Linked DNA regions of Homo sapiens. The protein of the gene in region 3 purifies or fractionates together with the protein of the main gene of each other region. This does not show direct contact. Each region holds a gene or a part of one and is shown on either strand. Other genes may lie near its edges. The genes, in order: SMARCA1, SHPRH and MYBL2.

Region 1 (3,655 bases), on a different chromosome or scaffold from region 3:
AAGTTAGAAAAGTCCCATGTACTACATATAGAAAACTTGCTAGACATATTTACCTATTTTTAATAAGATTTCTGGATAGCTAAACACGAAGAGGTTTCGCCCAGGGAGGGCACCAAAGCGCTGCGCCCTCTTGGCCCATACTTTGCCCTACACGCTTCATCTGTATCCTTTACAATACCCTTTATAATAAACCAGTAAGTGTAAAAAAAATCCATATGCTTCAGCAGCTAAACTGATTCTGGTCGAGCTCAACAACACAGGTGAGTAAGAGAGGGAGAGGATTTGAGGACCAGTTAACAGATTGATTAAAGCAATCTTTTCAGCTCTACGCCCGCTAGCCCCAAGTTAATGGGACCCACAGGAACTCTCTGGAATAGGGTGGAACTCTGAGGGTGTTTGAGCATCTAAATGGGCCTGACAGGAACTCTCTACTTTAAGGACGACCTAGAAAGAAAGGCACGAATTCAATCCACTGAATGTGAATCTCAGAACTGAACCAGAAGACCAAATTCCAGAGGTGGGAAGGTGGGAAACTAATTTTGTCAATGCTTATCCAAGAGCCACCCTTGTTTTATCAGAGCTTTATTTGCCTCTTTTAGCTAGGTGATAGAGACAATAGCAGTCAGTTTGTTAGGATAAATCTTATAACCTTTCTTATAACCTTTTCATAGAAATACAATTATAGTTTATACTCTCATCTATGTCTTATTCATAAAAGTTTAAAACATCTCTGAACAAAGGTACAATTAAATTGATGCTAAATAAATGAATAACGTTAAAATACAACACCATGTTTCAAATTATATACAAACCTGAATACTCCATGACCTCCTCAGGGGATTTGCCCTCTACCTCTCGAGCTATGTTATCAATGTCATCTCTTCCATATTTCTCATTAGCTTTAATAAACTGGTTAAAATCTCGTTTAGTCCAGTTTGTGAAACCCTGTGAACAAAAAGTTAAGCATTATCAATAGAGGTTAAATTAATAAATCCATTTATTGCCCTATTTACTTCTATACAATGATACATTAAAAAACACTTTAAAAGACTTAAAATGTTTCTCCTTATAAAATTGCACATATTTTATGTTGGAATCAAAAGTTGAGTGAGAGTTGTTATAGAAATAACTGCTTTTCTATTACAAAGAGAATGTTGATACATAGTTCGAAGATCTGTAGTTTTTAATTTCATATTTTATAGATGCCTACATTAAAATACAAATGCATGAAAATAAAAATGCTAATATAAATGCTGAAGTCGTGATATTCTAGTACTTCAATGATTTTTTTCACAGATCTGTTCCTACATAAATTAAAAGAGAGAAATGTGGATGCACTAAATCAAAAGAACACTGAGGAATAACCAAAAGATAATGCAAAAAAAAATTGTAGCTCTTTACATCATTCTGAACTAGTGTGAATAAATAATTTCTGTTCTAAATTATGTTCATAAATAGAACTTCTACAAGCAGAACGTTATTGGAGCCACTCAATTTCTTTACTAAAACATAAAACACTTTAGCCAGTGTTTTAAATTCCCTTGGCATTATTAGCATGTCTGTGAAGTCACAAGACCAAGAATTTGTCTTCCACTCCTCGAGCCCCAACTCACATAAATGTGATACTCCAGACACTGCAAAACTCTATCCCTGGCTTTTAGTTGATAAAGATTTCAGATGACCCCACATTTTGTTCCTACGTACTGCCATGGTTTTTTGAAAAAGATTAATTATTTAAGGCAGCAGAGAAGGACAAAAATGAATTCATATACTAGGAGAAGCAGAAAACTGATTATATTTCTAATTACAAACTAAAATATTATCTCAGTTGAGACTGTATATTCATGTTATACCGTACATTCACAATATACTCCAAGTCATGTAGCATTCTAAAGCCATAACTTTACTTTTACATTCAGGAAATACATTTTGAAAATAGAACATGAATATTTAAATGTTTTATTTTATTCTGTGGTAAGTTCTAATATTCAGCCATCTGCCATTATATTTTCAAACTAAACTTTATTACTTCCAGGCATTTGGCTCAAAAACTTATGAATGTAATTTGTGAAAATCCATACAATAAAATTACGTTATAGCAAAAAAAACCTATATAATAAATAATATACAAATATAAAAACTATCTTTCAATAATTAACGTGGAGAATTACCTACTACTATGCATCGCACATTGTTCAAAATTTGTTGAATAAATAAATCTTGCTGGCAACCCTCTATACTAAAGTAATGTCCTACGGTACACATTTTGTTTATTTTGCAAGCCTTCTATGCTGAAATTTTTATCTTCTATAGTTTATTTTAGAAGTAGAACACTCGTAAAACTCATGATAGCAATAATGACTTAAAAGCATTAATATTTTGTTCAAATGGAAACCTTCCTAATTTAATAATTGTTATACAATGATCACCTTAAATAATAATAATAATAATAAAAGCTTCAGAAATCTCTCATCATTGTATGAAAATTATAAAAAAAGATAAAAAGAATTTTGAAAATTATGAAATTATTCCATTAATAAAAAATTAGTAGAATATAACTTCAGGAGACAATTCACATCTATAAACAAAAGAAATTTAAATTTTCAAGAATATGTTAATAACAGGCTTGGCACGGTGACTCACACCTGTAGTATCAGTTGCACTTTGGGAGGCCGAGGTGGGTGGATCACTTGAGGTCAGGAGTTTGAGACCAGCCTGGCCAACATGGCAAAACCCCATCTCTACTAAAAACACAAAAATTAGCCAGGCACGGTGGTGGGTGCCTGTAATCCCAGCTACTCGGGAGGCTTGGGCAGGAGAATCACTTGAACCTGGGAGGTGGAGGATACAGTGAGCTCAGATCGCACCACTGCACTCCGGCCTGGGTGACAGAGCGAGACTGTCTCAAAAAACAAAAAAGAATATGTTAATAACTACTGTCTATCAGAATTCAAATGTGGATTCACTGACCTTATTATAATTGGCAAAATGTATGTCAAATTGCTAATACTTGACACTTATATTTTGCATATACATACTATCCACTATTTCCAAAAGGGCATATTCTATAAGATCAATTTTTAAAAATAAGGAGATTTGGTCTAAACATGTTTACAAAATAGCCCTGAGTTTTGTTGGTGTGTCACACTAGGATACTAGGCCCATACAATAAAAAGTGTGATCTATATTTTCTTTTTTTCTATTGATTGACTGTAAGTATTACAGCCATTGAAAATATTTTACTTGTGTGAGAAGTTTTTCCTTTTCTTCAGTCTCTTCTGGTGTAAGAGGTTCAGCTCCATCAATCTTTTTTTGCTCTTCTCTTTGAGCCAGAGCTGGATTTGGGATATCAGGATTCCTTGGAACCTATAAATCAAGAGATAAACTAAGAGTAAACTGATGAGAAAAATTAATTACTAAGGCTGTATATACACATATCAATCTTTAGAGTTATTTCAAGAGTAAACAATATAAAATCATAGCCAGAATGACACACGGTCCTCTCCACATTTCTGCTACCATGATCCTATTGAAGTAAAAACCATTCTTGTGCCACATGATATTCCATAGTTAAAACTCACTGGCAAATGCCACATTAGATTTCAGATATGATTATACCCTGGAACAAAGTCTACCCTTATACTATTGTAATATA
Region 2 (3,655 bases), on a different chromosome or scaffold from region 3:
TGCTGTTAAAAAAAAAAAAAACAGCAAACAGTTTCTTTAACACTTTGTTTGGCAACCATTCTCTGAATTTGAGGAAATTGACCTATTATTCTTTTCTTTGTATTGTGTGTGGTGCTGGTGTGGGAATCAGGTTCCGTGATTGCAGAGGTCTTCAGTTCTTACTTACAACACAAATGGAAGAGCTAAATAAATGCCAGAAGCTAGTAAGAGAGGCTGTAAAAAACCTGGAGGGACCTCCATCTCGTAATGTTATTGAGTCTGCAACAGTCTGTCACCTCCGACCAGCCAGACTTCCTCTCAACTGGTAGGTAATAGAAGAAATCATACAATGAAATGGTACCATTTCTTTAAGCTAGATTTCTTAGAGAAGAAACAATTGACTCATATAGTAAAGGTTTTTTCATTTTAATTGAGACAGAAGTAGAAAGAGATGTATTAATCTAATTTAAAGAAAAATAAAGTCTCAAGGACAAGGTATGAAAAACCATGTGATTTGTTTTTTCTAAAATGGCATATCTAGTGGAAAGAAAAATGAAGTCAAAATATTAAGCTTCTCCTTAAAATTACCAGATTGCTGGTTATGTTTGTGAATATTTCTGTTAATCTCTTTTTTTTCAGCTGTGTCTTTTGTAAAGCTGATGAATTGTTCACAGAGTATGAATCAAAGCTATTTTCCAACACGTAAGTTCTCTATTTGATTATTACCCATCAAGAAAATGAAACATTTTGCAAGACTCAGTTATGTGATATAAGACTATGTTTTCCCCCACAGTAACCTTTATTATATTGTTTCTTTAATTAAATTGATTAGTACACCTTTGGTATTTGATTGTTTAATATGCCCAGTTTTACCTATCCAGAAGTTATCCCCTAAATGTTCATAGTGTAGTAATATATAATTAATTGAGATGCAGTTTTGTGGAGTGGTAAAATCCCAGACTCTAGAATCCAGTGGATTTGAATTATACAGATTTTGCTAGCATTTTACTGCTATTCAAGGTAGAACTCATAATGTCCGGCATAACTTCTTCAAGAATAAAGAATGACACAATCAAATATGTTATTACTTTAATGAAACCATAAGTAAACATTGTCACAAACACCTGGATTCTCAGAGGGAAGCTTGTTAGAACAATAAATGTGTCCACTTTCATCCAGGTGTATTACTATTCTATTTTAGGTCAAATCTTTTTCTGTTATTACTGAAGTAAATAATACATTTCTTCATGTTTCTGTCCAAATTCTGTTTATTTATCTCCAACAGATATAACTTCTCTAAAATAGAAATTTTCCTCACATATTTCCTTGCCAAACGTTCACTTCTGCATGTCAAGGAAGAAAACAAGATTTTTGTGTTGTTATGGCAAATGAATCAGTAGCTTTCTGTTTATTACAGTGGATATAATAGAATTTAAAAAAAAAAAAACTGGCCAAATTTATGATGTTTTCAGCTTTTTCAAGGTTGCTTTGGTTTTTCCAAAGACTTGCAAACATGTTCTTTTAGAACTCACATTGAAGGTTGCTTTTCACTCACTGATACCAGTTACTGTTGTTTTGTTCTGGTATGTTTTCAGAGTCAAAGGCCAGACTGCAATATTTGAGGAGATGATAGAAGATGAAGAAGGACTGGTGGATGATCGAGCACCTACCACCACCCGGGGTCTCTGGGCAATAAGTGAGACAGAGCGATCTATGAAAGCAATACTATCATTTGCAAAATCACATAGGTTTGATGTTGAATTTGTTGATGAAGGAAGCACTTCAATGGATCTCTTTGAAGCATGGAAGAAGGAATATAAGGTATAGTATTTTAAAACTTCCTTCCAAAATTAAAAATTCTTCTTTTTTACATCAATTTTAACTGCTACTTTTTTCTCTCTCCAGTTTTTTAAAATCTTCTTTTGAGATTGAGGTGGCATAATTTCTCTTTGCCTGAAATGTAACTGTTGTAATAAAGGATAGCAAATACCATAATACTCAAAGACATTCTATTTATTAAATTACTAAAAGAAAATCATTATTAAACTGGAACTTATATGAAACTTTTTGTTTAGCCGTGAAAGTGTGTTCATTCTATTATTAGCTTGATCTTCCACTGCTATTATATGAAATTAGAGTTTTGTTTTTGTTCTGTGAATAACAAGCAAGCATCAGCTACCTTAAAGATTGGGGAACATAGTAAATACTTCTTATCCTATAAGTTTGGAAACCATTCCAATAAATAAAGCCCGATATGCCCTTTCATATTTGTACTTTAATGATTCCATCATATTATACCTCTGTACTTGAGATTTCACAATTCATTAATTTTCAATTATTGTTTTATTTGGATTAGTTATCCATTGTACTGCTTTACAGGTGACATAGGTAGAGGAAGGAAAGAAGTGTTTTTTTATAATGACATTTTTATTCAATTTCTTTTTTAAAAAGTCTTGCTTTTTAAAGTAGGATAAAAATTTTTATGCAGAGAGATAGTTATTTGTACTATCAGTTCATATGTCATAAATTGGGGAATACATTTATAACATCAAAATCATTGGTTTATAATAATGTTTTTCTCACACATTACTCATGTGAATACAAAGCACGTTAACACAGTTAATTACAGTAAGCCTTGGAAGAAGTGTTACTTATGATGTTCAGTTGCCCCTGTATTCTTCCTTTCGACTCAGTTTGGCCACATACCCTTTGTCCAGAAGAGAGCTTACTGTGCAGTTCTCCCAGGTCTTGGTACATATTTTCTGCATAACTTTGCAGACCTTTTCACAGAAGAGCAATTGAATGAGCTCCTGCTGTACATATCTACCAGATCTACCTCAAAATGTAAAGTCAGTGAAGAGAGCCTGTCAAAAAATGTATACTGATTGATACCATTTCTGTGAATTTCAGAAACATATATAACTGAATTATTAAGAATATGTTTCACATAGTATAAGTTCAATGAAAAGTGTAGCAGGATAAGTACAATTCAGAATAGTGGTTGCCCCATGGTTGGGTACTGAAGGAGGAATATGTGAGGAAAGAGTGATACAGTTGAGAAAGAACACACAGAGCCTTTCCAAGGAATTCATATTATTCTTTCTTCAATTAAATGATGAGTACTTGATTGTATATTTTAGTATTCTTGTTGCCATTTATACATAGTTGAATATGTGAAATATGTTATAATAAAACTATTTTTAAAAAATAAAACAAGAGATTCTGTCAGCCTAAAACTGGACTTTATAAAGATTTTTGGTCTTAGCAAGAAATCTTTATATTCTGTTACTGAGAATCTAAAGAGGCAGTGTCCTATAGAGATTTTTTTCATTCACATTTCATCCTAAAAATGACCCCAGGAACTACTTGTACGTTAGACACATAGCGAAAAAGTGTAAGATCTCATTGAAGACTTTTGCTTAAGGCACATCTTGGTGGTTTTAACCAGTTTTAATTACATGCTTTACCACTGTGTTTGTCTTTTCTATTCCTTCAGTTGCTTCATGAATATTGGATGGCTCTGAGGAATCGTGTGTCTGCTGTTGATGAACTTGCAATGGCTACAGAACGACTAAGAGTGCGTGATCCTAGGGAGCCAAAGCCTAATCCGCCTGTTCTTCATATCATTGAACCACATGAGGTAATTGGCAAGTAAATCACAGAAAAGGGAACAGCA
Region 3 (3,655 bases):
ACAATTCTGCTAGGGAAGCATTACTTTCCCTTTCATACCAAGGAAGCTGAGCTAAGGGGATTCGGTCTTCCCAAAGTTACTCACTCAGCTTCTAGAACAAGCCCGTGAGTCACTACAGGTTTTCCCTCCTTTACCCAATAAATCACAACACAAACCAAAAGGCTTCTGGACACAGAGGCTTCCACTTTGGTCTTTGGGTTCTGGCTTCTGAGTGGACCCAGACACTAAAGCCGAGTTCTGGTTCCCTGGGGTAGTTCACTCCTAAGGGTGGAGGCCAGCTGGGGGGCAGGACCGACCTCAGGCCCACACCCCAATTCAGGGAGGACCCAGCACCGACAGTGTCTGGTAGACCAGAAGTACATCCTACAAGGACCACTGAAGTGGACGGAGCAGAGGAGGGAAGATGGGATTTCCACACACGCAGTAACTCCCCCAACAGGCGCTGAAGGTCATTGTGGAAAGAGCCTGAGCTCTGAGCCGGACAGCAAGGTTTAACTCCTGTTCCTGGAGGTCACCGGCTGTGTGAACCTGGCCAAGTCTCCTAACCTCTCTGAGCGTGGGGTGCTCTCACTGTTGATGAGTCCACTACCCACCTCACAGGCTGTTAAAGACCAACTAAGAGCCTACACATTAGGTAGCAAGTGATGGGCCTGGCACGCGGCAAGCACTCCAATGTTAGGTACTGTAATTACTCATTAAGCACTGGCTCCGGCAATCAGTGGGTGCTCAATACAAGCGAGCTGTGCCTGCCAAGCGATAGTAGCAGGAGCATAGCATGGCAGTCAAGACCACCAAGTATACTTGCTGTGCAACCTTGGGTACACTACTTGACCTCTCTGAGCCTCAGTTTCACCTAAAAAACAGAAATGACACACCTCACAGGATACCACGCAGACTGTATGTTAAGCTCAGACCCTGGCAGTTAGATGTTCTAGGATGGGAGACACCTGGGTGGAAAGGCGAACACGGACCCCCATACTGAACTCCCCACCCTAGTGACCAGGCCTCTGGTCTTTCACCTCCCAAAACCCGCTCTACACAGCAGGCCTGGCCGATGCAGCCAGGAGCCGGGGTGTCACACCAAGAAGCCCTCCTCAAAGGACACAACCACACAGCCAACACAGTAACCACAACACGGGCTCAATGGCTGCCCCACCCTGAGTAACCAGAACCCACTCACCACTCCAAGACCAGCACCAAGACTTGGCATTTCCTGGGCTCCTCTTCAGGGAGACCCAACCATGTGTGATGCCACAAATACCACGCTGTCCTGTGCTGTCACCTGCCAGTCAACCTTTAGGACTCAGTTCAGTGCCACCTCCTCTGGGCAGCCTTCCCACCCCGCCCTGTGCCATACATAGAGGTCAGATGCCACCACAAACTCCTGCTGCACACACCGGGAGCTCCCCAAGGATAGGGACTGCATGCTGACAACCCTGGTGTCCCCAGCCCTTGGGTCAGGGCTAGGCATTCAGCATCAAGTCAGTAACTGTTAGCAGGGCGATGGAATGAGCAAAAGGATGTGGGCCTGAGAGAGAAGCACTTCCTGCTGGGGGTGTTCTGTGCTCACTGTGAAGTGTTGTGACCAACATACCGACTCGATCAAGTCCAGGGCTTCAGAGAGGCTAGAACCCACAGCAGGGATGAGGAGGTTAGCTGCCTCCACCACCCACTTGTAAGGCAGGCTCGTTTCTGGTGGGGAGCCTTCCTGGTCCTCACGCTTCGGGAATTCCTCCAAGGGCTCTGGTGTTCGCACTGCGTCCAGATCTGTACCGATGGGCTCCTGTTCCTTCGATGTGGTGGCTGCTGCAAGTTCCTCCTCACTGTTTTCCTCCTCCTTTATGGTAGGAGGGACGGAGGGCCAGTTGGTCAGAAGACTTCCCTGTAAGACACAAGAATACACCATTTGCATTTCGCTGAGATATAGACTATATAGTAGTTTCCAGCTAAACCACACAACCTGAATCTAAGAAGGAAACTGTGATGAACCCAAATAGAGAAACATTCTACAGAATAATTAGCCATACCATATACTTCCAAAATGTCAACATCATGACACTAAGAAAGGCTGACTAAAGGGATAGGACAACTAAATGCAATGTCTGGTCTTAGACTGCATCATGGACAGGGAAAAATGGAATATAAACTGTAGATAAAGATCCTGAATTAGGCTTAAATTCCCTGGATTGAATATAACTTTATTGTGGTTATGTAAGCAAATGGCCTTATTCTTAGGAATCTATGCTACATAACTAACTCTCAAATGGCTCAGATGAAAGAAGTAATACACAGAGGTTGGGTGCAGAGGCTCACGCCTGTAATCCCAACACTTTGGGAGGTCGAGGCTGGTGGATCACCTGAGGTCAAGAGTTCGAGATCAGCCTGGCCAACATGGTGAAACCCTGTCTCTACTAAAAACAAAACAAAACAAAATTAGCCAGGTGTGGTGGCAGGCACCTGTAATCCTAGCTACTCGGGAGGCTGAGGCAGGAGAATTGCTTGAACCTGGGAGGCAGAGGTTGCAGTGAGCTGAGATCGCACCATTGCACTACAGCCTAGGTAACAAGAGCAAAACTCTGTCTCAAAAAAATTAAAAAATAAATTTTTAATGCTTAATAAACATTAAAAAATAAAAAGACCAGGTACAGTGGCTTATGCCTGTAACTCTAGCACTTTGGGAGGCTGAGGCAATTGGGTCCCTTGAGTTCCTGAATTCAAGGTTGCAATGGGCTATGATCACACCACTGCACTCCAGCCTGGGCAACACAACAAGACTCTAATAAAAAAAAAAGGGAGGGGGGAGGGGGCTGGGTGTGGCGGCTCACACCTGTAATCCCAGAACTCTGAAAAGCTCAGGCAAGAGGACCCCTTGAGTTCATGAGTTCAAGGTTGCAGTGAGCTATGATCACGCCACTGCACTACAGTCTGGGGTACAGAGCAAGACCCTGCTCATTTAAAAAAAAAAAAAAAAAAAAAATCACGCCTGTAATCCCAGCACATTGGGAGGCCGAGACGGGCGGATCACAAGGTCAGGAGGATCGAGACCATCCTGGCTAACACGGTGAAACCCCATCTCTACTAAAAATACAAAAAATTAGCCAGGTGTGGTGGCAGGCGCCTGTAGTTCCAGCTACTTGAGAGGCTGAGGCAGGAGAATGGTGTGAACCCGGAAGATGGAGCTTGCAGTGAGCCGAGACTGCGCCACTGCACTCCAGCCTGGGCTACAGAACGAGACTCTGTCTCAAAAAAAAAAAAAAAAAAAAAAAAAAAAAAAAAAAAAAAAAAAATATGCGGGGCGTGGTGGCTCACACCTGTAATCCCAACACTTTGGGAGGCCAAGGCAGACAGATCCCTTGAGCCCAGGAGTTCGAGACCAGCCTGGGCAAACCCCATCTCTATAAAACAAACGAACAAACAAAAAGTGAATTTTATTGTATGTAAATTATACCTTTATAAAATAAAGAAAAAAAGCTACCAAACTGGGAAAAAATAGTTACTACATGATAAAGGAGTAGCATCCTTAATATACAAATAAAATGTACAAACCAGTAACAAGATAAAAAAAAAAAAAAAAAAAGACAACCAAGCCAAATAACAAATTAACAAATTAAGGGGTAATTTGTTACTCACCCTCATTAATAGTAAAAGAAATGAA

Evidence for each region.
Region 1: the proteins of MYBL2 (region 3) and SMARCA1 purify together in Homo sapiens (affinity purification with mass spectrometry, with the first as the bait; one large-scale study listed by BioGRID). This does not show direct contact.
Region 2: the proteins of MYBL2 (region 3) and SHPRH purify together in Homo sapiens (affinity purification with mass spectrometry, with the first as the bait; one large-scale study listed by BioGRID). This does not show direct contact.

What each region holds. Positions count from the first base shown.
Region 1 is NC_000023.11:129,467,961-129,471,615, forward strand, and holds part of SMARCA1 (SWI/SNF-related matrix-associated actin-dependent regulator of chromatin subfamily A member 1), read right to left. Parts: intron 3,367-3,655; coding exon 3,244-3,366; intron 946-3,243; coding exon 813-945; intron 1-812.
Region 2 is NC_000006.12:145,919,312-145,922,966, reverse strand, and holds part of SHPRH (E3 ubiquitin-protein ligase SHPRH), read left to right. Parts: intron 1-130; coding exon 131-304; intron 305-618; coding exon 619-681; intron 682-1,574; coding exon 1,575-1,800; intron 1,801-3,475; coding exon 3,476-3,619; intron 3,620-3,655. UniProt on the Homo sapiens protein: E3 ubiquitin-protein ligase involved in DNA repair.
Region 3 is NC_000020.11:43,697,984-43,701,638, reverse strand, and holds part of MYBL2 (myb-related protein B), read right to left. Parts: intron 1,883-3,655; coding exon 1,595-1,882; intron 1-1,594. UniProt on the Homo sapiens protein: Transcription factor involved in the regulation of cell survival, proliferation, and differentiation. Transactivates the expression of the CLU gene.